Linked DNA regions of Homo sapiens: regions 2 and 3 are each linked to region 1. Evidence: fine-mapped expression QTL. A gene starts in region 1. Each other region holds a variant in brackets. All regions are shown on one strand. Distances are between the middles of the regions.

Region 1 (9,424 bases):
TCTCAATAGATGCAGAAAAGGCCTTTGGCAAAATTCAACAGCCCTTCATGCTAAAAACTCTCAATAAATTAGTTATTGATGGGATGTATCTCAAAATAATAAGAGCTATGTATGACAAACCCACAGCCAATATCATACTGAATGGGCAAAAACTGGAAGCATTCCCTTTGAAAACTGGCACAAGACAGGGATGCCCTCTCTCACCACTCCTCTTCAACATAGTGTTGGAAGTTCTGGCCAGGGCAATCAGGCAGAAGGAAATAAAGCGTATTCAATTAGGAAAAGAGGAAGTCAAATTGTCCCTGTTTGCAAATGACATGATTGTATATCTAGAAAACCCCATCGTCTCAGCCCAAAATCTCCTTAAGCTGATAAGTAACTCCAGCAAAGTCTCAGGATTCAAAATCAATGTACAAAAATCACAAGCATTCTTATACACCAATAACAGACAAACAGAGAGCCAAATCATGAGTGAACTCCCATTCACAGTTGCTTCAAAGGGAATAAAATACCTAGGAATCCAACTTCCAAGGGATGTGAAGGATCTCCTCAAGGAGAACTACAAACCACTGCTCAATGAAATAAAAGAGGATATAAACAAATGGAAGAACATTCCATGCTCATGGGTAGAAAGAATATTGTGAAAATGGCCATACTGCCCAAGGTAATTTATAGATTCAATGCCATCCCCATCAAGCTACCAATGACTTTCTTCACTGAATTGGAAAAAACTACTTTAAAGTTCATATGGAACCAAAAAAGAGCCCGCATTGCCAAGTCAATCCTAAGCCAAAAGAACAAAGCTGGAGGCATCACGCTTCCTGACTTCAAACTATACTACAAGGCTACAGTAACCAAAACAGCATGGTACTGGTTCCAAAACAGAGATATAGACCAATGGAACAGAACAGAGCCCTCAGAAATAATGCCACATGTCTACAACTATCTGATCTTTGACAAACCTGACAAAAACAAGAAATGGGGAAAGGATTCTCTATATAATATATGGTGCTGGGAAAACTGGCTAGCCATATGTAGAAAGCTGAAACTGGATCCCTTCCTTACACCTTTTACAAAAATTAATTCAAGATGCATTAAAGACTTAAATGTTAGACCTAAAACCATAAAAACCCTAGAAGAAAACCTAGGCAATACCATTCAGGACATAGGCATGGGCAAGGGCTTCATGTCTAAAACACCAAAAGCAATGGCAACAAAAGCCAAAATTGACAAATGGGATCTAATTGAACTAAAGAGCTCCTTCTGCACAGCAAAAAAAACTACCGTCAGAGTGAAGAGGCAACCTACAGAATGGGAGAAAATTTTTGCAATCTACTCACCTGACTAAAGGGCTGATACCCAGAATCTACAAAGAACTCAAACAAATTTACAAGAAAAAAATCAAACAACCTCATCAAAAGTAGGCGAAGGATATGAACAGACACTTCTCAAAAGAAGACATTTATGCAGCCAACAGACACATGAAAAAATGGTCATCATCACTGGCCATCAGAGAAATGCAAATCAAAACCACGATGAGATACCATCTTACACCAGTTAGAATGGTGATCATTAAAAAGTCAGGAAACGACAGGTGCTGGAGAGGATGTGGAGAAATAGGAACACTTACACTGTTGGTGGGACTGTAAACTAGTTCAACCATTGTGGAAGAGAGAGTGGCGATTCCTCAGGGATCTAGAACTAGAAATACCATTTGACCCAGCCATTCCATTACTGAGTATATACCCAGAGGATTATAAGTCATGTTGCTATAAAGACATGCACACGTATGTTTATTGTGGCACTATTCACAATAGCAAAGACTTGGAACCAACCCAAATGTCCAACAATGATAGACTGGATTAAGAAAATGTGGCACATATACACCATGGAATACTATGCAGCCATAAAAAATGATGAGTTCATGTCCTTTGTAGGGACATGGATGAAGCTGGAAACCATCATTCTCAACAAACTCTCGGAAGGACAAAAAACCAAACACTGCATGTTCTCACTCATAGGTGGGAATTGAACAATGAGAACACATGCACACAGGAAGGGGAGCATCGCAGACCAGGGCCTGTTGTGGGGTGGGGGGAGGGATAGCATTAGGAGATATACCTAATGTAAATGATGAGTTAATGGGTGCAGCACACCAACATGGCACATGTATACATATGTAACAAACCTGCACGTTGTGCACATGTACCCTAGAACTTAAAGTATAATAAAAAATATATATATATAAATTTTATTGGGACTATTTTGATTCTACACCACTATTCTTTATTGGGTGTAACCCAGCAGGTCCACGAATAATAATAATTATTATTATTACCTTTTTTTTTGAGATGGAGTGTCACTCTTGTCACCTGGGCTAGAGTGCAGATGCGCAAAAGAGTGAGACTCTGTCTCAAAATAAATAAATAAAATAAAAACAGGAAAATACATTTGTTGACCTCCTGGGTTGTGCCCAATAAAGAATAGTGGAGTTTAATAGCGGTTCACTGCAACCTCCACCTCCCAGCTTAAAGCGATTCTTCTCCCTCAGTCTCCCAAGTAGCTGGGATTACGGCACCCACCACCATACTCAGCTAATTTTTGTATTTTTAGTAGAGACAGGGTTTCACCATGTTGGCCAGGCTGGTCTCAAACTCCTGACTTCAGGTGATCCGCCCACATTGTCCTCCCAAAGTGCTAGATTACAGGCGTGAACCACCACGTCCGGCCTAACAAATGATTTTTCATAGGTCACTGGACATCAAGGAGCCACTTGTGAACCAGGTGGAATGCAGGTGGGATGCATAGCACATGGCCCACAGGACCTGCACTGTGGGTTGGATACAGTAACGGAAGGGGCCTTTGGTCTTTCTTTTTTTTTTTTTTTTTTTGAGAGAGAGTCTTGCTCTGTTCCCCAGGCTGGAGTGCAGTGGCGTGATCTCGGCTCACTGCAAACTGCGCCTCCCGGGTTCACGCCATTCTCCTGCCTCAGCCTCCAGAGTAGCTGCTGGGACTACAGGCGCCCACCACCACGCCTGGCTAATTTTTTGTATTTTTAGTTGAGACGGGGTTTCACCGTGTTAGCCAGGATGGTTTCGATCTCCTGACCTCGTGATCCACCCGCCTCGGCCTCCCAAAGTGCTGGGATTACAGGCGTGAGCCACCGCGCCTGGCAAGGGACTTTGGTCTTTCTTGCTTGGGGCTGGGATGAGTGTGTACTTGTGAGAAGAAGGAGGCACAAGGCAGATTGGGTGGCCACAGCTGTAACCTGGAGCCACAGAGCAGGCTTCTGTTACACACTATTCTTCTTTTCTTCACTTTAACAGAACCATCCCTTGAGGTTTAGCTGGGGGCACCTGGCTGCCCAGCTACAGACTAGATTTTCCAGACTAATTTATATCAATTTTCTTTATTCCTTTAAAAGTTGTTTATTTATTGCACTTACATACTAAGATACCATTCTCAAAGGACCACGAAAGCAGAAATGGTTAATATATGAAGCTGTCTATAGGCATGATAGAATAAAAAGTTTAAAAATTATTTGGGTCAGGCTTAAATAACTTTAACAGGTTAAAAAAAGTGTTTGACAATATTCAACAAATAATTCTTCACCTAATTTCTTATTGAAGCAATCACCTTAATATTCATTGGCCTTGATAAATGTGAACACTGGTCATATTTATGTAAATAATGGTCATGTGGCTTTCTTGGCATATCTAAATTCATGTTAGATCTGGCTTAACCTGTGCTTATGTATGTATATGTTACAGTTATGTACATTAAATGTGTGTGTAAGAGTTGGAATTATTTGAAAGATAGCAAAATTTTAACTAGAAAAAATAAGTTAATATCTAATAATAGTTGACTTGTTGATTAAAATAAGTAGTTATTATGAAAGAGAAAAAAGGTGATTTCAAATTGATTCAGAAGAACTGGCCTAGCAACTAAGATTGTATGCTTTCCTTTTTTTTTAAAAAAAAAAAGAACGGATATAATGTTATGTGACAATTAAATACAGAAATTACAAAACTAGTTAAATTGATGTTGCCATTAAAGCAACATTAAATAGTTTTGGGGGAGAAGAAAGAAGCCGAGAAGATGGTATCTGTGCAGTTAAGATGGTCATGTCATTTGATACATGTAAACAGAAAGCAGCCTGAGGCCCACACCTGCACCATGCTGAAAGAGCTGACCAGCGTTATATGTTCAGTCCTAGATGAAATGCTGCATTTGTTTTTTAAACACTGGTATGCATTGTTTTAAAAATGTATAAAATAACAGTGAAAAGTTAAAGAATCGTAAGAATGTAGCTAAAGGTAAAAAAAATTTGCAAAGCCATAATTTTTATGATGAAACAATATATTTTTTATCTTTTACGTATAATGTTTTAATGCTTTTTTAGCCCAATGAAATGTGGAAGTGTTTTGTGATTTTTATCTTACTATAGTGATTGTTTTATAAACAAAGAAAAAATTAATTCAGGATTGCAGATATGGTAAACTATTAAAATAGTTTGGGTATTAAAATATGAAATAATTGGGTATTAATTCAAAATCCAAGAGTTGCCATTGAACAAACCTGTAGGCATAGGTAAGTGCTGAGGTGAAAGTGCCAACCAAAGCCGTTAGATTGAACATTTATGCCTGGAGGGAATCAGTAGAGGAACTGGCTGTGGACCTTCACCTCTGCATCCCCTTTGCTTTCTGCTGTAGCTGGGTATCACAAAAACAACAACAAAAGCCACTTATTTCTTAAAGACAGAGAAAGGATAGTTCCTTCCATTTAGGCATTCCTAAATTGCCTCCCCGGTGGCCCCTGCGCTCTTGGAGGAGGTCAAGGCAGAGCAGACCCTCAGGTGGGGGAGCGATGCACTTGACCCTGAGGACATCAGGTACCAGGCCCACTAGCCCCCGCAGGCGCGGAGCTGCGGCTGCAGCCACCAGCCTAGACGTGGCGCGCCCGCAGCAAGTGGCTGGACACCGCAGACCAGGCCCGCGTCCCCAGCAGCGCGGATCCCGGGGCCAGCCGCCCAGGCAGCAAAGTCAGGCGGTCGGCTTCGCCAGCAGCCGATGAGTCTCATCCTGTGGATTGCCCAGCGCCAGGGATCAGGATCCGGAGAGGTGTCCAGGAGGAGCAGACCCTCAGACCAGGTAGGCTGTGCACTCAGTGACCCTGACGCCATCCAAGGGAAGCTCCGCCATCCCGCGCCAGTGCCAGAGCTGCAACTGCAAACTGCGCGTCCTGGCACGAGCAGCGGTGGGGGCGGGTGGGGGAAGGAGCGAGTGACTCTCCAGGCGTCTTCCGCTACCTGACACCAGCCAGGCAGCCCCCAGGGCCAGAGCGTCAGCGCCGAAGCCAGGCTCATCCGGGAAGCCACTCCGGTGGCCGCGGGGTGCCCATGCCAGCACCAGATCTCTCTTCGGAAGGAGGAGCGGGGCGGGCTACACGGCCAGGCGGGCCCTCCCCTTAAGGCGGGGTGGGCCGCGCGCCTGCGATTTTCCGTCCGTGGTCCTGGGGCAGCCCTGGCCAGCCCAGGAGAACCCGCGAGCCCAGCGGCGCCTGCACCTGCGGCTTCCGGGAGCCGGGCGGCTTTGCGAGGCTCACTAGGTCTGAGAGGTCGGAGGCCGCCAGTGTCGCTGCTGAAGGGTGGACCAGGCGGGATCGCGGATTCTGGGCTAGATCGCAGACTTGGTATCGCGGATTGGGATTTGGATCGGGGATTTTGAGTTGGATCACGGATTGGGGGTTGGATCACGGATTGGGGTTTGGATCGCGGATTGGGGGTTGGATAGGGGATTTGGAGTTGGATTGGGGATTTGGGGCTGGGTGTGGGGCGAGGGGGAGTGAAAAGGTGACACGGAGCTGCCGCGGCTCAGGAGCCAGTGGTTGGGGGTCTGAGAAGAACTCACCACCTTGAAGAAGTTCTTCGGCTTTGGGAGCCGCAGGGGCCGGCGGTCCGGGGCTCCCTAGGCCACGTCTACAGGGGTTCGGGGTACCGAATCGGAAGATCCACAGGGCGCTGTCAAGGGCGAAGCCGCGGAAGTGGAGCGCTGCCTGGCGCGCAGGAGCAGAGACCTGGAAGCCGGGGACAGGCAGCACAGGCAGTGGGGTGGGGGCTCAGCCCAGGGTGGGAGGGGGTCCCCAGGCCCGGCTTCCCCGCAGCCCCTGGGATGGGGCCTCAGAGGGCACCCTCAGAGGGGTGGTGCCAAACGGAGCCTCAGCTGCTCTGCATCCCCCATAATTCCCCAGCTGGAGCGCTTGGTGGAGAATGTGAGTGATTTAACTCACCAAGCTAAGCATACACAGTGTTATTTTTAACCTACACGTTTAAAACATGGTGTTATATACATTATAGGAGGTGCCTAATGAGAGAACTCATTCCTCTATCAAAAAATACCGTGAGTCGGCCGGGCGCGGTGGCTCAGGCCTGTAATCCCAGCACTTTGGGAGGCCGAGGCGGGCGGATCACCAGGTCAAGAGATCGAGACCATCCTGGCTAACACGGTGAAACCCCGTCTCTACTAAAAATACAAAAAAAAAAAAAAAAATTAGCCGGGCGTGGTGGCGGGCGCCTGTAGTCCCAGCTACTCGGGAGGCTGAGGCAGGAGAATGGCGTGAACCCGGGAGGCGCAGCTTGCAGTGAGCCGAGATGGCGCCACTGCACTCCAGCCTGGGCGACAGAGCGAGACTCCGTCTCCAAAAAAGAAAAACAAACAAACAAACAAAAAACCGTGAGTCATTTTCAGTAGCGAAAAGCTCTCACCTAAAACTGTCCGTTTTACATCCGTATCCACCTGTGTAGATCGGTTCTTTACTGAAGGTTCTTAGAAGGAAACTTGGAAGTGGGAGGTGGGTTCTGTGTTCCTGAATGGGAAGACACATTTTTCTCAAAATGTGAGCTCTTTCTGTGATTATCAATTTTACATAAGCCGAATGAAAAAATCAAGGTTTTAACATTTTTGCATGACACCTACTGTCTTTTACTATTGTAATGACATTTGTAAAAATTTTAGGGCTGGGCGCGGTGGCTCAGGCCTGTAATCCCAGCACTTTGGGAGGCCGAGGTGGGCGGATCACGAGGTCAGGAGATTGAGATTGAGACCATCCTGGCAAACACGGTGAAACCCTGTCTGTACTAAAAATACAAAAAAAAAAAAAAAAAAAAAAAATAGCCGGGCGTGGTGGTGGGCGCCCATAGTCCCAGCTACTCCGGAGGCTGAGGCAGGAGAATGCTGTGAACCCGGGAGGGGGAGCTTGCAGTGAGCCGCCATCCAGAAGTGCTGGGATTACAGGTGTGAGCCACCGCGCCCGGCCTGAAAAGTGCATCTTCATTTTACAGGGAATTCTTTCAAATCAAATAATCAAAAACTGTAAAAGGGGGCAAAGTACTTTTTTGCAGATCTACAAGTTTCTTATGTAAATAGGAAAAAAAGCCTTTGCTTTTCTGGTATAAGAATTTAAATTAAAAGAGGAATGAAACTGTTTTCTATCCACAATGTGTGAGGATGTTTTTTATACTGCTGCCTGAAGTTTAAGTTGCTGATTACTTTTTAAATAGATAATTTGGTGGTAAGTACTATATTTTAAAAATGCGTATGCCCGTTACCCTTCAATTCCATTATACTAAAATACCCTTGGGAAATAGAGATACATGCACTTTGTTTTTCACAGCACTTATTTTAAAAAGAACCCATAGAATGGATCTTATAAGTAAATTTCAGTTGCATCCATAGGATGCAATAATATGTGACCATCAAAGGTGACAATAGATATAGAAGTACGTTGATGTGCGAAGATGTATTTTGTTTTAGCCAGCGAGGAAAAAAGAATCAGTTTGATTACACATTTACCAAACATTAAGAATTTAATATGGTAACTTTTATTTCAGTATTAAAATAGCAATTTTATTTATTACTTTTTTATATACAGAATTCGACACCAAATTTTGGAACTTAAAAAGAAGATTCTTAAAACTTACAATCCAGGTAAGACTTCTGATAGTGAATTTCTCATTTCTCATGGTGGTCCTACTCTTGGTTTAAAAAAATTAAGATGTAAGATTAAGGTAGTTTTGAAGGAAAAGAAAAGTTTAAAAAGATGTGTAAATTGCATGTATATATACATATATACATACATGTAAATTAGTTTCTTATATTTAACTTCTTTAGTTTGGAATTAAGAGTTATTTAAGAAGGTAGTTGTAGCTGATTTATAATCTCAAACAGTATTATCTGAAAAAAAATCATTTACTTAATTATGATCCCGAAAATCCTATATAATATTTATGTTTTCTCTATAGTCACATTGTAACAAATTGGACTTGTTATACATATGGATCTTCTAGTTCATTTTTGTAATAAGTTGTTTATTTTTATAATAAATTGTTTATATTTAGTAAATACATAATTACACTTGACCCATGAATAATGTGGGGGTTAGGGGCTCTGATTCCAGTGCAGCTGAAAATCTAAGTATAACTTTTGATTTTCCCAATTTAGCTACTAATAGCCCACTATTGACTGGAAGCCTTCCTGATAACATAAACGGTCGATTAACACCTATTTTATTTGTGCTGCATTATTATATACTGTGTTCTTACAATAAAGTAAGCTAGACAAGTGAAGCTGTTAGAAAGAAAATCTGCAGGAAAAATATATTGACTTTTCATAAAGCGTAAATGGATCCTCACAAAGGTCTTCATCTTTATCATCTTCAGGTTGTTCAGGCTGAGAAGGAAGAGAGGTTGGTCTTGCTGTCTCTGGGTTGCAGAGGCAGAAGAAAATCTGCATATAAATGAACTCCTGCAGCTCAAACCCTTGCTGTTCAAGGGTGAACTGTATTACCTGTTAATTTGTGTCACTAAGGAAGTATCTTTAGAACCGGGAACTCAACAATCCCTTTCTCGTAGAATAAATAAATGGCAGTAAGAACTGTAAAAGTGAACCAGTGTGCACCCATACGAATAGGAGATTATTTTTTGAAGATACCTACTGAGTGCAGAAGACAGAAAAGCAATTCCTTTGTGAGAAGCACAAGTTATGTTACATATTCTTACATAAGCAAAATGGTTTTATCTGTCATAGTTTACACACACACGTGCACATACACACATGTGCGTTCGGGTGCGCACACACACACACACACGCACACAAAGTTAAAAGTCCTGCTGATTGTTAATGACCAAATCCACTGCTTGCAGGGAGTAGTGGATAACACAGCCTACAGCTTGCATGCAATTCTTTTGGCTTTTTGACTTGTTCTGTGATGAACTGCCTTGAATGGGTCAACCATATTTTAGTTTTATAAGAAATGAAAAGATTAGAAGCAAGTAAAAGGAACTCTATGATCAGTAGTTATACTATTATACTATATTCAATGGTTATGTTTTTTTCCAGTTATGCAAGTTACTTGAATGATGCACAAT
Region 2 (10,849 bases), 140 kb before region 1:
ACCTCATTCCATGATCCTCTCACCAGCCTGAGAGGCAGCTATCATCACCCCATAGTTGAGATGAAGAAACACAGAGGCCCAAAGACAGGAAGCGAGTTGCTGGAGCCACAGGGAGAGGGGAGAGGAGATGCAGCTGGGACCCGGCCCCAGCCCATCCAGCCCTGAAGGCCTCCATGCCTCGCTGCCTCTCCAGCCTGCCCAGGGTTTCGGTGACTCAGTGACCCATGCAGGCCCCCCAAGCAGGGAGGAGGGAGAAGTCAGGCTGCACAAGAGGACAGGGACCCTGCCCAAGGCAGAGCTGCTTTGCCCCCTCTTCCCCTCAGGCATCCCGGGGACCCGGCCTGGTTGTCCACCCACATATGCACGGCTCTCTCTGTCTTGGACCACGGTACCATCACCCACACCAGCTTCTGAGCCAGCCCTCCATAGGCGTCTGCCCTGAATCATTGCATTTGTCTCAGAAGATTTTTGATATTAATGTCATTCTGCACTAATGAGTCCAGCCCACTTGGTCCCAGCTGGAGCTTCCATTGTCTGCTGATTAATTGGTACAGAACTCTGGGGGGTAGCAGGGGGAGGTGGGGGAAGAGAAAGGGAGAGAAGAGCCATTTCCAGAGCAGAAATAGGTTTCCTCTGCTCACCAGTGACTATTCTCCTTATCCTGAAGCCTTCAGCTAGGTATGGGGCAGAAACTAGAGGGCCACTCCCTCCTCAGCCACTTAACTGTCCCGCTTCAGGAAAAGTGAGACCCATGGATACTGTCCCAGCGTACGAAGGTAGGTCTGGAGGAAAGCACAAGTTAAGAACTGGTAGACTTGAGCCAGTGCAGTGGCTCACGCCTGTAATCCTAGCACTTCGGGAGGCCCAGGCATGTGGATCACTTGAGGTCAGGATTTTGAGACCAGCCTGGCCAACATGGTGAAACACCATCTCTACTAAAAATACAAAAACTAGCCGGTGTCATGGTGCATGCCTGTAGTCCCAGCTACTCGGGAGGCTGAGGCAGGAGAACTGCTTGAACCCAGGAGGTGGAGGTTGCAGTGAGCCGAGATTGCGCTGCTGCACTCTAGCCTGGGTGACAGAGTGAGACTCCATCTCAATTGGTAGACTTGGATTCTGACTCATCCCAGCTCTGCTCGCTGTTGCCCTGGGCAAGTTGCTGGCCTCCCCAAGCCTCATTTTCCATCTGCAAAATGGGGGACAAAAGTCCCACCAAAGCACAGAGATGAAAGCTCTTGGATTTGACAACTTGGCTTTCAACTCCATATCTTCCATTTAGTGGGGCTGCGTGGCCTTGGGCAAGCTGCCTAACCTCATGTGCAAAATGGAAATATTAACAGCACCCACCTGATGGGGCTGCAGTGAGGACTGAAGGAGAAATGAGGAAGGTGCAGTGCTTGGCCTGGCGCTTAGCAGGATCAGTAAATAGAGGCTATTGTTACCACGTCTGGAAATAGCCACCTGATTAAACAAAGCCTGTGACTCTACTTGGTGGAATATTATGCAGGCACCAAAAAGGATACACAGTAGATGGTGCAGCCCAGGAAATGCCTATGTCCAAATGCCTTCTTCACTAGATCTCTTCAAGGGAATAATTATCTCCATTGACAGAAGGGATAGCTGAGGCTCACAGAAGGGGCCTGAATGGTCCCAGGTCACAGAGCAAGTAAATAGCTGAGCTGGGAATTGAACACAGGGAAAACCTGTCTCGAAATGCAGACTCCATCCTCTTTGTCACAATTCCTGCACATCATATTTTAGAAATTGATTTGCTCAAGTCAGGAGCCTGCAGGCATTTCATTTTGGTTTCTGTCCAGGTGATCATGATGTTTTTTGCCATTGATAATTATTTTTTAAGGCAGATAATAATGTTGACCTGCACTCCCCACCTGGCTGATGTGCAGAGCAAAGGAGCTCAAAGCTGTGTGTGGGATCTGGCAACAGGACAGAGCATGTGAGCAACAGTTAACATCATTCCAGGACTGGGGTGGCTTAGCTTAATACTACACAGTCATTCATTCATTTATTCTACAAGCATTTATTGAGCCTAAAGGTACATGTTCTGGGCTCAGAGGACACAGCAGGGAACCAGAGAAATGACATATTCCTGCCTTCTTAGAGCTGACATCCCTGGGGAAAAGACATACACTAGACAAGTAAACAGACACAAATACTAGAGAGGAAAATAAAGCAGGATCAGGGCATGGGGGCATGGGGTGACGCTCCTTTGTTCATGGTGTCATGGAAGGCCTCTCTGGTAAGGTGCCATAGGAGGCTAAGGTTCAAACAAAGAAAGGAGATAAACCATGATATCCAAGGGAAAAGCATCTGGGCAGAGAAACAGCAAGTGCAAAGGCCCTTAGTCTGTTGGGGCTGCTCTAACAAAATACCATAAAATGGGAAGCTTATAAACAAGTAATTGACTTCTAACCATTCTGGAAGCTGCGAAGTCCAAGATCAGGGCACCAGCAGATTCGGTGTCTAACGACAGACAGCTTGCTTTCTGGTTCCCAGATGGCACTTTCTCACCATGTCCCCACACAGTGGAAAGGACAAGGTGGGCCTCTTTGATGAGGGCACTAATTCCATTTGTGAGGGCTCCACCCTCATGACCTACTCACCTCCCAAAGGCCCCCTTCCTAATACCCTCACACTGGGGATTAGGTTTCAACATAGATTCAGAAGGACACAGTTGGACCACAGCAGGCCCTGAGGCTGAATTATACCTGTGAAGTTCAGGAAACAGCAAGCAGGCCAGTGTGGCTGCAGCGAGTAGGGGAAGGAGGTGGGGAAGGGGTGTGGTGGGCAGCAGATGCTACAGGGCCTCACAGGCCACTGTAGGAACTTCAGAATTTACCATTCAGCATGAAGGATCTGGCTTGTCATTCTCTCATTGGTTGTATTATTTGCATTTTCTTTACCCAACAATTTCCCATTTCTGACCAGATAAAATCTGAACTCCCAGATGTGGCATTCAAAGGCTTTCAGAGTAAGGGGAGGACAGGGAGGTGCTCAGTACCCCACCTCACTTTCCAGCCTCCTGTCCTGCCGCTCCCCACCATACATCGTCACCGCCCCCCTCCCCTCACTACCCTCTGTCACACCTCTGTGCCTTTGCCCATGCAGGGCTCTCTGCCTGCCTTCATTCAGGCTGACACTCAAATACTTGAGGAGCACCTCCCGAGTGCCAGGCCCTAAGGGAGGGGCTGGAGAAATAGTGGTGAGCAAAACTGTCCCTGTCTCTGCTCATCTGGCATCTAGCAGAGAACAGCAACACTAACCTGGTAGGTGGGGAACTGTGGGCCGTGGCAACGGCCACTCTGGAGTGAGGGTAGACAGGGAGGCCCTGAAGAGGGAGTGTGGAAGCTGAGACACAAGAACGAGCAGCAGTCAGCCCAGCAAAGAGGTGGGAAGAATGACTAGCCCCCTTGAACAGCACAGCAGAGGGAGGAGGGAGGGAGAAAGAGGGCAGAGCTCGCCTCACCTGAGCCAGGCCGGGAAGGGAGCTCAGCAAATAGGCAGCGCCCGCCAGGCTCAGCGGCAGGTAAACAGGACTCTGTGCCACACCTGCTGCCCCCTCACCGCCCGCAGCCGCACAGGGATCAATATTTGCCTACAGACCTGTCTTGCCTGATGAGTGTTTGGGCATCCGCCAGGCAGGCCTGGCTGGAGGGGAGCTGGCAAGAAGCAGGACAGTCCTGGGGGATTCCAGCGCCTCACTGCCTGTAGCCCTGAGATGTGGGACCCAGACCAAGAAGAACCACAGCCAGGAGCCATGGGCAGGGCATCACCAAAGTCCTTCACTACTGCTCCAGCGGGGTTAGGAAGGCCTGATGCCAGGAAACCAAGGATAGAGTGACCCCAAAAAGGGCAGCCCACCTCCACACCTGACCACAGCTGCCGACCGCAGAGCAGCCGCTGCCTGTGTCCCCCACCCTTTCTCACTCACTTCTCCTCCTTCTTCTAAATACACTAAATGCATGCCGGGAATAAATTAATTCTGTATCAGATAGTTGAGAGAACTGCAGAATTATACATCTCCACCTTGTACCTTCTGAATTTTTGTGCATTATTGGGTATTCAAATGAGTAAACAAATAGTAAGGTGCTTATTTTCATAATTTTAAAAAATCAAATTGTAAAGATTAATTCATTGAAAACGAAGTCCCCTGACCCCCTAATTCTACTTCACAACTTATCTTCATCTTAACTCTGGTAAGATTTCATTTTCAGCATAAATAGCATCATATCACACATCCGGTTCTCCCCTAACGACATGGTATACCCTGGGCACCTTTCCACCCCCACACATCTGGGGCTACCTCATTCTTTTTTGCAGCTAAAATGTTTTCCATGTCTTGGATGTACTGGGGTTCGTGTAGACCCATTTTGGTGGACATTTGTTTCCAGTTTTGTTTTGTTTTCTTTCAGTTTTGGTTTTGGCTATTAAAAATAATTCTCTACTGGACAGTCTTTTACTTGCATCTCTGCGTATTTGTTGGAGTTTCTTTGTAGAATACATTCTCAACTGGAGGGCAAATGGCTTGTACACTGTTTACATTTCACAGACATTGCCACAGTGCCCTCCAAAGAGGCTGTGCCCCTTCCCCTCCTACTGCCTCAGCCCAGGAAAGAGACTATTTCCCTGCCCTCAGCTGTCAGGAAACCTTTAGCTCTTTGACAAACTCATGAGTGAAAGATGATAGCTGTTTTATTTGTATTTCTTAATTATTAGTGAAGTTGGTATCTTTTAGGGCTAAGTCATTTGCATTTTTTGATGAATCGCCTCATTATACACTTTACACCGTTTCTTTAAAGGGGTATTCTTTCCTTATTTCATTTCAGCGATGTTTTAGCACCTACTCTGTAGTGGTTTACCACCCCCTTGTGAAACAGGATAGAGTGTGTCTGCACGGAAGCAGGGGGCAGAAGCAAACAAGAGTTCCTGTGTGGGGCATTCCCAACACAAAAGAGAGGTCATCAAGCCTTGAATCTGGTGAGACTTGAAGCATCTGATTACAAATGGACTGAGCCTCCATTTCCTTATCAGTAAAACAGAAAAATACAGTAATTCCTGTCCCTTGGTGAAAAAAAGCACAAAACCGTATGTGTAGGTCAGAATACCAGTCAAAACTGACATAAACCAAAAGGGAACTTATTGGTTCATGTAACTAAAAGCTCCAACTTCAGGCATGGCTGGATCCAGGTGCTCAAACACCATCAAGCATCGTCTGGCTCTCTCCACATTTCAGCTCTGCTTTCCTCTGTGTTAGCTGCATTCTCAACCTAGAGATACTGAGATAGCACCCAGGAGCTCCAGACTTATATCCTATTGATTCAACTATCCACGGAGAGCAGCTCCAGCAAAAACCCAGGGATTCGCTGTGATTGGTCTGGACTGGGTCATGCATCCATCCTCAAGCTAATCACTGAGGCTTGGGTGATAGACGATATAGATTCACCAGGCCTGGAGCTGAGGGATGAGAATGAGTCCCATATGAAGCATGTGGCCTGAGCAGGAAGATGAGGAAATTCAGCTGCTGTTACCAAAAGAAAGGACAGGATAAAACTATAGATGTCCCTCTGCGAGATTTTAGCCCTGCCTCAGCTATGTGACCCTGGACAAATTATTTCTCCTCTCCAGCCCTTGAGTTCCCTACCTGTAAGATTCTGACTTCAAAC[T/G]CAATTGCTGATTTTGATACCTTTTGTAGCAGAAAACTTTTTTACTTTTCAATAAACAATACATGGAACCCAAAACACAGAACAGATAAGAGCTGTATTTTATTAGAAATGTTACTTGTGTTTAATTTTTATTTTACTTTACGCTCTGGGATACATGTGCAGAACATGCAGGTTTGTTACATAGGTATACATGTGTCATGGTGGTTTGCTGCACCTATCAACCCATCATCTAGGTTTTAAGCCCCACATGCATTAGGTATTTGTCCTAATGCTGTCCCTCCCCTGGCCCCTCACCCCCCAACAGGCCCCGGTGTGTGATGTTCCCCTCCCTGTGTCCATGTGTCCTCATTGCTCAACTCCCACTTATGAGTGAGAACATGCGGTGTTTGGTTTTCTGTTCCTGTGTTAAGTTTGCTGAGGATGATGGTTTCCAGCTCTATCCATGTCCCTGCAAAGGACATGAACTCATTTTTTATGGCTGCATAGTATTCCATGGTGTGTATGTGCCACATTTTCTTTATCCAATCTATCATTGATGGGCATTTGGGTTGGTTCCAAGTCTTTGCTATTGTAAATAGTGCTGCAGTAAACATACCTGTGCATGTGTCTTTATAGTAGAATGCTTTATCATCCTTTGGGTATATACCCAGTAATGGGATTGCTGGGTCAAATGGTATTTCTGGTTCTAGATCCTTGAGGAATCACCATACTGTCTTCCACAATGGTTGAACTAATTTACACTCCCACCAATAGCGTAAAAGTGTTCCTATTTCTCCAAAGCCTCGCCAGCATCTGTTGTTTCCTGACTTTTTAATAACCTCCTTCCTAACTGGCGTGAGATGGTATCTCATTGTGGTTTTGATTTGCAAAAAATGTTATTTGTTTGATCCAGTATTAGTCAGGATAGACCAGAATCTGCTGTAATAAATAAACCCCAATATCTCAGTGGCTTAACACACAAAGGTTTGCTTCTTGCTCCTGTCACTGTTCGGTGCAGGTCAGGGAACTCTTCTTAGCAGATCTTCTCTACCCCTCAACCAGTGGTCCAGAGACCCACCCTCCCACCATCTGTGGTTCTGCCATGATACAGCTCTGGCCTCTGTGTAAGGGGAAGAAGCCACAAACTCCATGTCTGCCCACATCCCAGGGGCCCTCAGCATCCAGTCACAGGCCTCTATTCAAAGGCAAGAAACTCTGGGAAATGTAATCTTCCTCTACTGGAAAAGGAAAATGACACTGTATGTTCTATAACATTTACTTATTATAAGGTCAGTCATTGAGAACAATGAGGTTGTTTTGATAGATCAAAAAGAATAAGAAATTCCGCTGGGCGTGGTGGCTCACGCCTGTAATCGCAAAACTCTGGGAGGCCGAGGCGGGTGGGTCGCTTGAGGTCAGGAGTTTGAGACCAGCCTGGCCAACATGGTGAAACCCCGTCTCTACCAAACATACAAAAATTAGCTGGGCGTGGTGGTGGGCGCCTGTAATCCCAGCTACTCGGGAGGCTGAGGCAGGAGAATGGCTTGAACCACTGCACACCAGGCTGGGTGACAGAACGAGACTCTGTCTGAAAAAACAAACAAACAAACAAAGAAATTAGATATCATGGATGACAGATTTAGTCATGTCTCAACCTCAGCACTGACTTTAAGCTTCAAAACTTTTAAACTTTTTAAAGTTGCAAATATATTAAGAAAATCCCAGGTCAACAAGTAATAGCAGTTGAAAATCCTAGCAGTATTTAGAACCTTGCTTTGCTTGCAATTTTTAGGGTCCTCTTTACTTGTACAGAGATAGCAGGACAAACTTCAGTGTCAAACTTACTGACAACTGAGTTAATGGCAGAAGAAACTGTGCTGGCCATCTCCAGATGCTAACATTTAGTATGCAATATATCCAAGGGTTTTTGTTCTGTTTATTACAATGCTCAAATCCATATTTCAAATGTGAAGCTCAAATACAGTGTTTGCGGAGGGCTCTGTTCTGGAGCGCACAGTGCCAGAGGACCTTTGGGTTTCATAATGCATATGCATCTAAGCAGAGAATGGCTGGGTGTCCTCAGGCAAGACGTTTCCCCTCATTAGGCCTTGGTCTTTTCATCTATAATAGGGAAGGCTCAGCAAACCCCAGGGCCTCGACCAGAAAACAAATAAACAAACAGACCACACACAAACACACAAAGATCCTTTGCTTTTGGTGAAGGCATCTGCCACGTTGTGACAATGCTCAGGTAGACTAGATCGGGCAACGGAGAAAGAACCTCAGGCTTCCAGACATCAGCCACTGAACAAGCCTGGAGACGTCTGCTTCAGCTGGAAGCTTTATTGCAACCTCATGAGAGACTCTGAGCCAGAACCATCCAGCTAAGCTGCTTTCAGATTTCTAACCGTCGGGCACTGTGAGATAAAAATATTTGTGGTGTTAAATGCTATGTTTTGGAGTATTTTGTTACCCAGCAGCAGATAACTAATACAGATGATAAAGGGAATGATTTCATCTTCTTAGGTGTGATACTGGTGGTGTGATTATGCAGGAGACTGCCCTTATTTTTAGGAGTTTCAGGCCAATGTAGTTAGTGATTTAGTGGTGAAATGTCCTGATACCTCTACAATTTAGTTTCAAATGGTCCAGCAAATATATAAACATGGCAGGCGTGCGTGCACACACACACACACACACACTCACACACACAGTTCCTGAATCCAGGTGCTAAGTATACAAATAATCATTGTATCATTCTTTTAACGACTCTGTATCTTTGAAAATTCTCACAATAAAAACTTAAAGAATTTCTGCTTCTAGCCAAGATGAAGTAACAGAATCTTGATTTATCCTACCACTGAAAACAACCAAGAAACCATTAAAAATATATGAAATAGGCCAGGGAACAGTGGCTCACACTTGTAATCCCAGCACTTTGGGAGGCCAAGGTGGGTGGATCACTTGAGGCCAGGAGTTCGATACCAGCCTGGCCAACATGGTGAAAACTCATCTTTACTAAAAATACAAAAATTAGCCCAGCATGGTGGCAGGTGCCTGTAATCCCAGCTACTTGGGAAGCTGAGGCAGAAGAATTGCTTGAGCCCAGGAGGCGGAGGTTGCAGGGAGCCAAGATCACACCACTGCACTCCAGCCTGAGCAACAGAGCGAGACCCTGTCTCAAATATATATATATACATATATCTAATATTTTATATATAAAATACATATATTTATATATAAATAAAATAATGAAATAGCAGTTTTCAAGACACTGGACACCAGACAACAACAAAGGACAGTGATCTCTGAGAGATGCAAAATAAGACAAACCCTGTAATTTTCCCCAATCACCGTATTAACAGAGATTCCCAACCATAACCCAGCGCAGGCGAACTGAGGCAGATCCCAGCAGACTCCCTATATTGAGGAGATAGAGCTTCTTCTCAATGTCTGCCTACAAACTCTTGTTTGTGTTAAAATCTTCCATTCATTGAAAGAAAACACTAACTGATGAATCATTTGGAAAGCAAGCTTCTTTTTACTTTCTGGGGCTGAATATCTCCATTGGCCTGTGGATGCATATGAGAGTAAGAAATTTCTTCTACTAGATTCTTCTTGATATCTACCTACGATCTCCCTTTTGTCTTAAGATTTTCCACTCCAGGAAGGGAGACAAAAGCAGAGTTTCTAGAGCAGATTGCAGAGAAAAGGTAACTGCCCAGAGAGAGAGCACCAGAAATCTGCAGTGGGTCTCCCTCATGGAAACGGCAGAGTATCGGTCAACTCATGTATGCAATAAAAATACCTGAGGCTAGGCCAGGCATGGTGGGCACACACCTACAGTCCCAGCTACTCAGGAGGCTGAGGTGGGAGGATCGCTTGAGCTCAGGAGTTCAAGACTGTAGTGTGTGATGATCATGCCTGTGAATAGCCACTGCACTCCAGCCTGGGCAACACAGTGAGAACTCATCTCTAAAACAAACAAAATATAAAAGAAACCTGAGGCTGTGGAAACAAACAAACAAACAAACATCTGAAAGGATTCAAAGCAGTAGTATCTCGCACTCACACAGGGCTAAGAACAGTGCTTACTGACACCAGGCGGACGTTAAAATCGAACAATTCACGGATCATTGGGTGGAGCACTCACAAGGGTCTTTCTTTAGTCATGTGGAATAATTAGTCCTAGACTAAGCATCGCTCTAAACCTTCCTAACAAATAATAAAAGCAAGACCCCAGGAAGATCAAACTATTTCCAAGTAAATTGCATTCCAGAGCAAATATTTATAAAAATACAAACATATTAAACACCTGACAAAGTAAAATTCACATATGGCATTCAATCATCAGGGATTATCAAGCATGCATAGAGGTGGCAAAAACACAAACTATAATGAGGACAATAATCAATAAATCAAACTGACCAAGAACTGACACAGATGTAAGAATTAGCAAAGAAAGGCTGGGTGCAGTGGCTTATGCCTATAATCCCAGCACTTTGGGAGGCTAAGGCAGGTGGATCATTTGAGGCCAAGAGTTTGAGACCAGCCTGGCCAACATGGCAAAACCCCATCTCTACTAAAAATACAGAAATAAGCTAGGTGTCATGGCAGGCACCTGTAATCCCAGGTACTCATGAGGCTGAGGTAGGAGAATGGCTTGAACCCATGAGGCAAAGGCTCCAGTGAGCCAAGACTGTGCCACTGCACTCCAGCCTGGGCAACAGAACAAGACTCCATTTCAAAAAAAAAAAAATCATCAAAGTACATTAAAACAGTTATGAAAATTATGCTCTATAAATTCAACATTAGGTAGAGATATGGAAGATATACCAAATACCCAAATCAAACTTCTAGAGATAAAATTTATAATGTTTAAGAGGAAAAATATATTGTATAAGATTAAGAGCAGATGAGACATCGCAGAAAAAAAGATTAGTGAACTTGAAGACATAGAAATTACCCATAATTACACAGAAGAAAAAAGAAAAAAATAAAAAGAGCATCAACAACTCTATGTCCAAAATTTAATAACTTAATTGAAATTGACCATTTACTTGAAGGACACAATCTACCAAAACTCACACAAAGAGAAATAGACAATCTGATAGGCCTGTATCTTTAACAAAATTTAACCAGAATTAATAACCTTCCAAAACAGAAAACATCAGGTCCAGCTGATTTCA
Region 3 (10,849 bases), 800 kb before region 1:
TTTTGTCATTTTGGATTGGACTTTTCCACATCGGCTTTGAAAATTTGAGGCATGGCCCCTGAGGTTGGGGAATCTGTAAGCTGAATGAATTTATACCAGAGGCAGAGCAGAGCAGACCATGCCTGAGGTTTCCTATCAGCAGAAGAGAGTTTGAGGCCTGGTCCCACCATTTACCAGCTCTGTCATCCAACCTCTTCCACTGCCTCTCCTCTGATAGTGTGGTCACAGCTCCCATGTATGCAAATATGATAACAGACAGGAAAAGTACAGGATGGTAAATATGCTTTTGATGGGAAGTAACAGAATATCTGAGTGTCCTTTCTTAGCACACACTACAGGAGAAGCTTGGAAGACGGTCAGCGCATCCTGGGTCTGTCAGCGACTTGGCCACACCTGAGTACCACTCAGTCTCTGCCGTTCTCTTGTCCTTTCCTCATGGTCACAAGGTGGCTGCTGCAGCTGTGAACCTATGTCTTCACCCAAGAGTAGCCTGGGTAGAAGGGAAGGGGGCAGGGAAGAGAGCGGTCTTCTTGAGAGGTTGTCTCTTTAATTTCAATTCAGGGGAAAACTTTCCCACCTTTCGGCAGACTTACAGCCACTAGCCAGAGCTAGGTCACAGGGTCGCCATCCCCTTCACTGGCAAGGGTAATGCGATCGCCATAGGAGGCTTTGGCCAATCTTGACTCATCCCCTGAGGCTGGGCGTGTTGCCGCTGGAACAGAATCGAGGCTTTGGTAGGAAGGAAGACTGGGCATGGCTACTGGGGAGCAACCAACAGGGTCAGCCAGGGCTGTGGAGTGTTACCCCAGCGCCATCCAGGGCTGTAGGGCATTACCCCAGCGCCATCCAGGGCTGTGGAGTGTTACCCCAGCGCCATCCAGGGCTGTGGAGTGTTACCCCAGCGCCATCCAGGGCTGTGGAGTGTTACCCCAGCGCCATCCAGGGCTGTGGAGTGTTACCCCCAGCATCAACCAGGGCTGTGGAGTGTTACTCCAGCGTCATCCAGGGACGTGGAGTGTTACTCCAGCGTCATCCAGGGCTGTGGAGTGTTACCCCCAGCATCAACCAGGGACGTGGAGTGTTACCCCAGTGTCAACCAGGGCTGTGGAGTGTTACCCACACATCAGTCAGGGCCGCGGAGTGTTACCCTAGAGTCAGCTGGGGCCATAGAGTGTTACCTGAGCGTCAGCCGGGGCCACAAGTGTTACCCCAGGGTCAGCCGTGGAGTGTTACCCCAGTGTCTGCTGGGGCCATGGAATGTTTCTGTTGTCACCCCAGAGGAGGGTGGGGCAGAGCGGGGGTTCAGTCATCCACTGGCCCGCCTAAGTTCTCATAACTGGGCCTTCCTTCTGCTTTGGTGTTTCCCAAGGACCACATTTTGGGAACATTCTTCAACCACAAAATTTCTGCCTCCCCTGGGGCTCTGCTGTCCAGCTGTGCTGCCGGCCACAGCTGAAGGGAAGGTTGATGGGTTTGGGATTGTCTCTGGCACAGTCCCGTTGGTTGCAGTCTTTGGCCTTTAACCCTTGAGCAGATGCTGTTCTGCCCCCGAAGTGAGTGACTAAGGGTGGCACTCTAGGACATTGCTTGCCAGCTTTCCCATATCATAGCACATGCAAAGAATGGTAGCACTTCCCTCACTGCAGGAAGGGAAGAGGACACTAGGCTGGAGGTGACCAGCCACTCCCCAGCCCCGAAGGACCAAGGTAGTCAGTCTACCAGAGACCACATACAGTGCACCTGCACCCACTCGGTGTGTCTGGGAAGCTCTGTTACCCCCTACTATCCTGCCTTTCCCCCAGCTCCTTGGCTTTCTTAGCAGCCATATCTGACTGTGGCCTCCAAATCCCCTTCCAGAGCAGGTGCAGTTACAGTCATGGTCTCCAGAGCAGGCTGTCCCTCCTTCCCTCACCGAGCAGCAACCCATTAGCTTCAACCTTTCTAGATGCCTTTGGATCCTTTTACCCTCAAATAGCAATGTGACATGACTCCAAGATGGTGCAGCTTAATTTCAAAGAATTCAGGCTGGGGCGTGGTGGTTCACACCTATAATCTCAGTGCTTTGGGGGACCAAGGTGGGTGCATAACTTGAGCCCAGGAGTTCAAGACCAGTTTGGATGATATAGCAAGACCTCGTCTCTATTTAAAAAAAAGAAAAAAATTTATATGTATTTATTTCTAGGTGTGTGTGTGTGTGTGTGTGTGTGTGTGTGTGTGGCCAGGTGCAGTGGCTCACACCTGTAATCCCAGCACTTTGGGAGGCCGAAGTGGGTGGATCACCTGAGGTCAGGAGTTCGAGACCAGCCTGGACAACATGGCGAAACCCTGTCTCTACTAAAAACACCAAATTTAGCCAGGCATGGTGACATGTGCCTGTAATCCCAGCTACTTGGGAGGCACGAGAATCACTTGAATCCGGCAGGCGGAGGTTGCAGTGGGCCAAGATCATGGCACTGTACTCTAGCCTGGGTGAGTACATCTCAAAAAAAATAATAATCAGCTGGGCATGGTGGCGCAAGCCTGTAGACCAGCTCCTCGAGACACTGAGGTGTGAGGATTGCTCGAGCCCAGGTGTTTAAGGTTGCAGTGAGCCATGATTGCGCCACTGCACTCCAGCCTGGGTGACAGACTGAGGCTGTTTCAACAACAAATAAAAATTGGGGAGAAAGCAGGGGGTTATTAATTAGCTTGAGTAACGGAGAAGTCCAGGCTAGTGTCTGTGTAGGCCCGGCTCAAGGTGCCTGGATTTTGTTTCTTCCTCTTGGCTCCATATTTCTCAAGGATGCCCTCACTCTCCCCATAAAGTGCCAGGGAAGCTTCCAGCAACTCCAGATTCACATCCTTAGTGTTAGTTTCTGTTTTCCAACAGTCCCAGCAGAAATTCCCTAATTCCCTCTGATGGACCAGTGTGGATTGCCTGCATTTATCAGTACAGACAGCCTGCATCTAACAATACGGATTACCCGTCCTGGTCACTGAGACCCGCAGGGCAGCCTCTCGATGGGCGAGGCTCAGCTGCGTCTGTGTGTGTGTGTTCATGTGTGTGCACGATCAACCCCACTGGAGCTCTAGGGACCAAGAAGTGAAAGCTGATCCCAAAGGACAATTTGGAGTGGTGTTATTGGAAGAAAAGGGAGAGGACATGAGGCCGGCAAAACCAGTAGGTGACCATCCAAGGAATAGGGTGAGAAGCTTGGGCTCTAAGCTGGAGCTGTGTTCTAGAGAAATTCCACCTCAGTGGCATGAAACTCAATGAAAGGATTTTTGATCCAGTGGGGAGGCCAGTGGGTGCTTGTTCTCTAGGGGTTTATGTACATTGATAAATTTGGGTTTATCGGTAGCAGTGTCGAAATCTGTGTTTCTCTGTATATACTGTGCTTACAAAATGTCAGCTTTACAAGTTACTTCAAATCCTAAAAGTTGCCCACAACAGCCTCATGAGATGTACAGACAGAGGTTACTGACATTGTTTTACAGGGGGAGAAATGTCACAGAGGCGGAAGAGCACGCAGGGCCAGGCCTGAGCTCCCTTAGGTTTGCAGCCTGCCTGGGAAGAAGGGAGTGAAAGGGACGAATGTCTGCGAACCCTGTGTGTGGGTTTGGCACTCAGTCTGGGACAGTGCGGGTGTGCCCAGGTCAGGCCACCTACTCCCAGGTCCCTGTTTCTCTGCCCACTTTCATCAGCTTCCTGGGGAATGTTCTCACGGGGAGTGTTCTCAGAGGATGTCTCTGGCCTGGTTGGGGAGTCTGGGGAGTACCCCAAGTCCTCGGGACCTGGAATGGTGAGGTGCATGTAGCCTGGGGGTAGTCACGCCTTGCTTGGTGCTTTTGGAGGGCGGAGTCTGGAAGAGGAAAATGCTGAGGGCTGGAGGGGAAGGCTCTAGATGAGGAGCCTGGGGGCCTCTCTGAGCCTCAGTTCTGGCTGTGAGGTGGGGCTGGCGCAGCCAGGGGTGCGCTGTGAGCCCTGTGCCCCGCTGTCCTCTGCTTTCAGGACCTCGCGAAGTGTGGATGTGATCCTGCACCTTCAGAGGAGCCCTCTCTGCCCCACAGATTTCTACGTTGCTCCCTTCTCTCGAAATAATTCTGAGTCCCTCCCTGGGGCAGTGGCGGGTGTTGGGGAGGTGGAGATCCTTCACAGTGCCCTCCTCCAGGCAGCTGCACATCGCATTCTTGCCCCTTGACGTGCCCATTAGCGCTCCAGCTCCTGCTGCCGCTGAGCTGTGGCTGCCTCCTTTACCTAGACTCTCAGGTCGGGAAATGGCATAATGGCTTGCCCATCCTTCTCTCCCTTCCTTTTTTTTTTTTTTTTTTTTTTTTTTGAGATAGAGTCTCGTCCTGTCTCCCAGGCTGGAGTGCAGTCGTGTGATCATAGCTCACTGCAGTCTTGAACTCCTGGCCTCAAACAGTCTTCCTGCCTCAGCCTCCCAAAATGCTGGGATTACAGATCTAAGCTACTGCACCTGTTCCCCCTGCCCCGCACTTTTTTCTTTTTTAAATAACCAAGCTATGTCTTGATTTAGCATGATGAATGTTACCCTATAATCTTACCATCCTAAACCAAGGGCTGTTTAACTTTCTGCGCAATCCTTTCTCATCCATCATGTAGACAGATATTTGCTTACCTAATTTTAACCACAGAATGCATACCATTTTTACCTTGCTTTTAAACTGTACATCAGACACATTTTTCCAGGTGATGGCTCATCTTTAGGGTCATGTGTGATGACTGTACCGTATATCCCATCAAGAAAATCTTGCATATCCCATCAAGAAAATCTGCATCCTACTATCAACGTGGCATACACCCTCCCCCTATTTTTGTTAGTGCAGATAATGGTACAGTCAGTGGTTTTGAGGGGAAAGTTTCTTTCTTCTGTTATTCTTTGGGATGTGGAGTAACTGGATACAG[AAGGATGTCTT/T]TCGGGCTTTGTTTTTCGTTTTAATTTTTTTTTTTTTTTTTGAGACGGAATCTCACTCTGTCGCCCAGGCTGGAGTGCAGTGGCATGATCTTGGCTCACTGCAACCTCTGTCTCCCGGGTTCAAGCGATTCTCCTGCCTCAGCCTCCCGAGTAGCTGGGATTACAGGTGTGTGCCACCATGCCTGGCTAATTTTTGTATTTTTAGTAGAGTTGGAGTTTCACCATGTTGGCCAGGATGGTCTTGAACTCCTGACCTCAGGTGATTTGCCTGCCTTGGCCTCCCAAAGTGCTGGGATTACAGGCATGAGCCACCACGCTCAGCCTCGTTTTAATTTTAGAACATCTGAGTTTGAGACAGACAGGTTTCTCCTCCTGTGGTATTCGGAAGCTGTGGGACCATTATGAAATTGTGCTTCAAGTTTTATAATGGGCAACGTGGATTCAATATATCTTTTAGTTGAATTTTTAATTTCAGTTGGATTTATCATTGTTGTCGAAAGCAAAAAGCAATTGATAACAAAGAAAGCCTTTAAGTTTGAAAGTTTCATTTCAGAATGAAACCCCTGTATCAGTTTGGTGTGGAAACTTTATTTCTTTTTGAGATAGAGTCTCGCTCTGTCACCCAGGCAGGTGTGCAGTGGTGTGATGACAGCTCACTGCAGCCTCCGCTCCTGGACTCAGGTGATCCTTCCGCCTCAGCCTCCCGAGTATCTGGGACTACAGGTGAGCACCACCACAGCTGGCTAATTTGTAAAGTTATTGTCTTGCTGTGTTGACCAGGCTGGTCTTTCACTGCTGGACTCAAGCAGCCCTCCCACCTTGGCCTTCCAAAGTGTTGAGATTACAGGCATGAGCCAACCACACCCGGCCAGAAACCTTTCTTGAGCAGCATTTAGTGGTGCCAGGCACCGTGCTTGGTCCTCACTGTGATTTGTCGTTATGTGAACGAATGTAATTCAGTTTGGGAAGATTCTCCAGAGGCCACACACCACCTCCAGCTTTCTCCCTTATGCAGTTTTCATCATGTGTTGAATCAGGATTAATCTTTAACTGTTGACATAGGCACGCAGAGAACATCCCTTCATCATGTCCAGAAACATATTTCAGGACTAAGCACGAACCATTGGGGAAAAAAAAAAAAGCTTGCAGATGTCCTCTGAAAGTCACGTGTCGGCGTACTTCTAGAGGCTATAGGAGAAACAACTGTGTGCGTCCCATGTGTGTCCTGGGCAGAGGATTCACATGTCCTCTAGTTTCTTTCTTTCTTTTTTTTTTTTTTGAGATGGAGTCTCAGTCTGTTGCCCAGGCTGGAGTGCAATGGCACGATCTCGGCTCACTGCAGCCTCTGCCTCTCAGGTTCAAGTGATTCTACTGCCTCAGCCTCTGGAGTAGCTGGGATTACAGGCATGCGCCATCACACCCGGCTAAGTTTTGTATTTTTAGTAGAGATGGAGTTTCACCATGTTGGCCAGACTGTTCTCTAACTCCTGATCTCAAGTGATCCACCCGCCTTGGCCTCCCAAAGTGCTGGGATTACAGGTGTGAGCCACCATGCCCGGCCTCATGTCCTCTAGTTTCTCAACAGCCTCCTCTCTCTACAGCTGCTCTATCGTGGGTAAGATGGGATCCAGCCTCCCAGAGAGGGGCAGCGATTGGCCCCTGGTGGCAATGGGCACCTGAACCTAGGTGACCCAGTAACCTCACTCCTAATCCCTAGCCCTTTCCACAGCCTCATGGCAGACCTGGTGGAAACAATGATTTGGCTTTGAGCAGCAGCTTTTTCTGCGAGTGTGGACATCCTTGTAGACATCTGTAAGTGATGGATGCGTGGAGTGGCAGGGAAGACTTCAGCCTTGGCCAGACGCGGTGGCTCATGCCTGTAATCCCAGCACTTTGGGAGTCTGAGGCAGGTGGATCACAAGGTCAAGAGTTCGAGACCAGCCTGGCAAACATGGTGAAACCCCGTCTCTCCTAAAAGTACAAAAATCAGCCGTGCGCGGTAGTGGGTGTCTGTAATCCGAGCTACTCGGGAAGCTGAGGCAGGAGAATCTCTTGAACCCGGGAGGCAGAGGTTGTAGTGAGCCGAGATCTCGCCACCACACTCTATCCTGGGCGACAGAGCAAGACTCCGTCTCAAAACAAACAAACAAAGACTTCAGCCTTGAGGACACCCAGGTTCACATCCCAGCACTGCTATTTTCCAGCTGTGTGACCTCCGGTAAATGAGTGTTTTTCCAAACCTCAGTTTGCCCATCTGTTAAACAGGGATTATAGTACTTGTCTCACAAAGTTTCTGTGAGAATTAAACAAGGGGATGTATCCCAAGCGCTCAGCATGTCGTGCACACCCTGAACATGGCTGCTGGTATTAGAGTTTTTTCTTTGACTGAATTTGGAAGGAATGTCTACATCTGTTTGCTAATCGAGGTCCCATGGTGACACGGCTGACTTTAAGATTCTTTTAACACCGGGATTCTGCCATCCTATTAAGGATATACAGAAGCAAAAAAGCTGTTAGCACATGTCCAGCCTCTGAGTCAAGGAGCAGAGAAATGTGAGTTGGTTGTTGAAGAAATGCAAAGACTGAATTTGCTTCATGACCCCATTTTTTGGTTTATCATTTGAGCAGACTGAGACTTTCCATTAATTTTAAAAAGTCATGACCAAAATAAAAATAAAATTATTCATGAAAATAATTGTATGGATTTGTCATTGTGAAAGGGCACACAAATACCTAATCAATTTGCTTTAATTAAGAGAGTCCTCTGTCTCAAAAAAAAAAAGTCTGCTTTTATAATCATGCGGTATGGCGGCAACACGGCGAAATGCTCGTGGTTAACCTGGTGAGCTAGAGGCTTCACACACATCTGCTTCGCTTCACACTGGGAAATGAGAAAATCTATTCTCCTGATGTAGCCACGGAATTTTTGGGGGGCAGGGGTGGGTGGGGGAAGGCGGTGCTTGCAAATGGGTAATGGCAACTTCTAAAATGGAATTTGTTTCCAACTCTGAGCTGTGAAACAAGGCATAAAGCAATTAGAATGTATTTGAAAAGACAGTTTAAATAAAATCTACTCAACTTTGGGCCTCCCGGGAGGAACATCACACAAAAAATGCCGGATCTGCTCATTGATTTGACTGTGCTTTAACTGCGCCTTTTTGCGTGGGGCTTGGGCGGTTATATTACCTCCTGCAGCCTCCTTTCAGACCAGGCTTGTGGTGCAGTCAGGAAGGGAAGATTCCCATGATGTCAAGGGGACTCGAGTGTGTGTGAGCGTGAGCTAGTGTGAGGGTGGAAGTGTGTATGTGTGTGCCAGGAGAATGCATGCATGTGTGTGTACATGGGTGTGTGTGCACGTGTGTGCCAGGAGTATGCATGTGTGCATATGTGTGTGTACATGGGTGTATGTGTGCACGTGTTTCATGTATGCATATGCACGTAAGTATGCCTGTGTGTGCATGTGTGTGCATGCATGTGTGTGTGTGCATGAATGTGTGCATGTGGGCGTGTGCATGCATGTGTGTGTGCATGAGTGTGTGTGTGCATGTGGGTGTGTGCATGCACGTGTGTGCATGCTGTGTGGGCACTGTACAGGCATCTCACTTAGACAGTGAGAGACTTTATAAGGTCCCCAGATGGGACCAGCCTGACCTTATCGCCTCACTGTGGAAGTTATCCCGTCCAAGTGTCCCCGAAAGACCCTGTAGCTGGGCCCTGACGGCTCATGCAGTGGGCTTTAGAATTGGGAAGCCTGGGTCTGAGTCCAGAGCTGCCTCTGAACCGGCCAGCGTCCTGGGACAAGTTGGTTGACCTTTCCGAACCTCGGCTTCCTCTTCTGGAAAGGGGCTGGCCGAATCCGCCTCGCTGGTCTTGGTGAGGACTGAGCAATGGCCCTTCTGGGGCTGCCCCGCGGGGGCGCAGCGCGGCCAGAGGAGCCCCCTTGACACTCGCTCTGGTCTGGGCTGGTACAGAGACCCCATCCAGGCAGCGGGGGGCAGGCGCGGGTTCTGGGAGGGCCCTGGGCTGTTCCCCAGGTCTCCTCCCCAGGCCCCGCGCGCCAGGCCCTGCTGAAAGCCCCAGCGGATTCCCCGGGTCCTGTCCTCGGTGAGTGCCTGAGCTTCCCCCTACAGCACCACGCCGAGGTGGCGGTGTCATGGGCTGAATCGTGTGCCTCCTTCCCGTGGCGAAGTCCTCACCCCTGGGCCTCCGGATGCGGCCGCCCTTGGGGATGGGGTCTTTAAAGAGGCGGATGAGGTGGCACAGGTCGTTGTGGGGGGGCCCTGATCCAACAGGGCTGGTGTCCCGAGAAGAGGGGAGACGCGGCCAGCACGCTGGGACCACCAGCCGCAGGGAGAGGGCTCGGGAAGAAGCAGGCCCCGCCAGGACGCGGGAATGAACGGCGCGCCGCGCCCCGGGCTCCGGACCACCCGCGGGATCCCCGGACGGCAGAGCAGGGACCCGCTGGGCCTTGGGAGTTGGGCTGAGCGAGGAGCGCCGGGGCCTCGGCCCACAGGGCGCGGAGGCGCAGACGGCGACAGGGAGGACCCCGGCGGGGAGTCCTCAGGCAGAAGCAGTACCGCGCTAGGGACACAGGCGCCGGCCGCTGCCCGAGGAGGGGCCGCTCCCCGGGCGCTGCGCTGGGGCCGGGGCGCAGCGGGGAAGACGTCTCCGCGGGGCTGACCCGGCAGAGCGGCCAGCGCCGCGCTGCTCGCCTGGTCCAAAGCCGAACCCAGGCGGCCTCCCGTGCGCGCAGGGGGAGGGGCGGCGCTGCCCGAGAGGCCCGCGCTGGAGGCGGAGGCCTGGCGCCTCGGAGGACAGGACCGAGAGGCCGGCGCGGCGGTCGCCGGGGGACCCGTTGGGGCTTTTCGCAGGGCCTGGCGCGCGGGGCCCGGGGAGGAGACCGCGGCCGTGGGGAGGAGAGAGTTCGAGGATCAGGAACAGCCCGGGGCCCTCCACGACCCCGCGCCTGTCCCCGCTCCTACCGCCTGGATGGGTCTCTGCGCCAGCCCAGCATGGTGAACCCTGGAGGGCGGGTTCTGAGAAGCCGTGTGTGTCTTTGAAAAATAATGAGGACGGGCTCGGTGGGTGGCTCACGCCCGTAATCCCAGCACTTTGGGAGGCCGAGGCGGGTGGATCACGAGGTCAGGAGTTCGAGACCAGCCTCGCCAGTATGGCGAAACCCCGTCTCTACTAAAAATACAAAAATCAGGCGTGGTGGGGGGCGCCTGTAGTCCCAGCTACTTGGGAGGGTGAGGCAGGAGAATCGGTTGAACCCGGGAGGCGGAGGTTGCAGTGAGCTAACATCATGCCACTGGACTCCAGCCTGGGGCGACAAGAGTGAGACTCCGTCTAAAAAAAAAGGATAATGAATGGCAACGCCAGTGGGCTATTGGGCAGCAGGGCAAGACTTTTTCAGCCAGTATGCTTTAGGGAACTGAACTTTGCTTGAAAAAACTACCTTCGCAAAATCACCCCCAACGGCTGTAAGTTGGAGCTCCCAGCATCGACTTGCTGCGCAAGGAGAAACACAGTCTGAAGGGGTATTGAGGGACTGCCAAAAGCACTGCGGCTTCGTGACCGAGCCCCTCTCGACATCACTGTCCAGGCCAATTTGAGTTGGGTTTTTATCCATCGCTACTAGAGGAATCAATGGATTGACTTGCTCGCTTGGAAGATTGTGAAGTAGTTGTGGCTACGGTCATATTCCGAACACCTGGTGTATGTGAGTTTCTCTGAGGACACATATGCCTGGCAAAACTCGGAGCAAGTGAAGGTGGACCTGGTCTCCGCTTCCTTCCTGTCCTGCGCCCCTTCTCCTCACCCCCAACACAATGGCTCATGCACTCTTCTTGCCTTTCCCAGGAACTGTCCTGCGTTCTGTTTCTGCTCTCACAGCAATCAGTCTCCTGAATAGTGAGGACCAGGTGGCA

Evidence for each region. PIP is the estimated chance that this variant, and not a neighbour inherited with it, causes the effect.
Region 2: its variant is fine-mapped to the expression of FAM153A in whole blood (TOPMed, PIP 0.96).
Region 3: its variant is fine-mapped to the expression of FAM153A in minor salivary gland (GTEx, PIP 0.97).

What each region holds. Positions count from the first base shown.
Region 1 is chr5:177,779,010-177,788,433 of GRCh38, reverse strand. FAM153A (family with sequence similarity 153 member A) reads left to right here and starts at 5,535. Exons shown (of 23, transcript NM_001413826.1): 1 at 5,535-5,691; 2 at 7,930-7,985.
Region 2 is chr5:177,917,461-177,928,309 of GRCh38, reverse strand. No RefSeq gene overlaps it. Among named protein-coding and RNA genes, the nearest start is that of PROP1, 73 kb to the left of the region's middle. The variant T/G (reference allele first, on the strand shown) is at 5,682.
Region 3 is chr5:178,575,677-178,586,525 of GRCh38, reverse strand. All of the region lies in intron 1 of COL23A1 (collagen type XXIII alpha 1 chain), which reads left to right. Among named protein-coding and RNA genes, the nearest start is that of COL23A1, 9.3 kb to the left of the region's middle. RefSeq lists an enhancer at 3,501-4,000. The variant AAGGATGTCTT/T (reference allele first, on the strand shown) is at 4,910.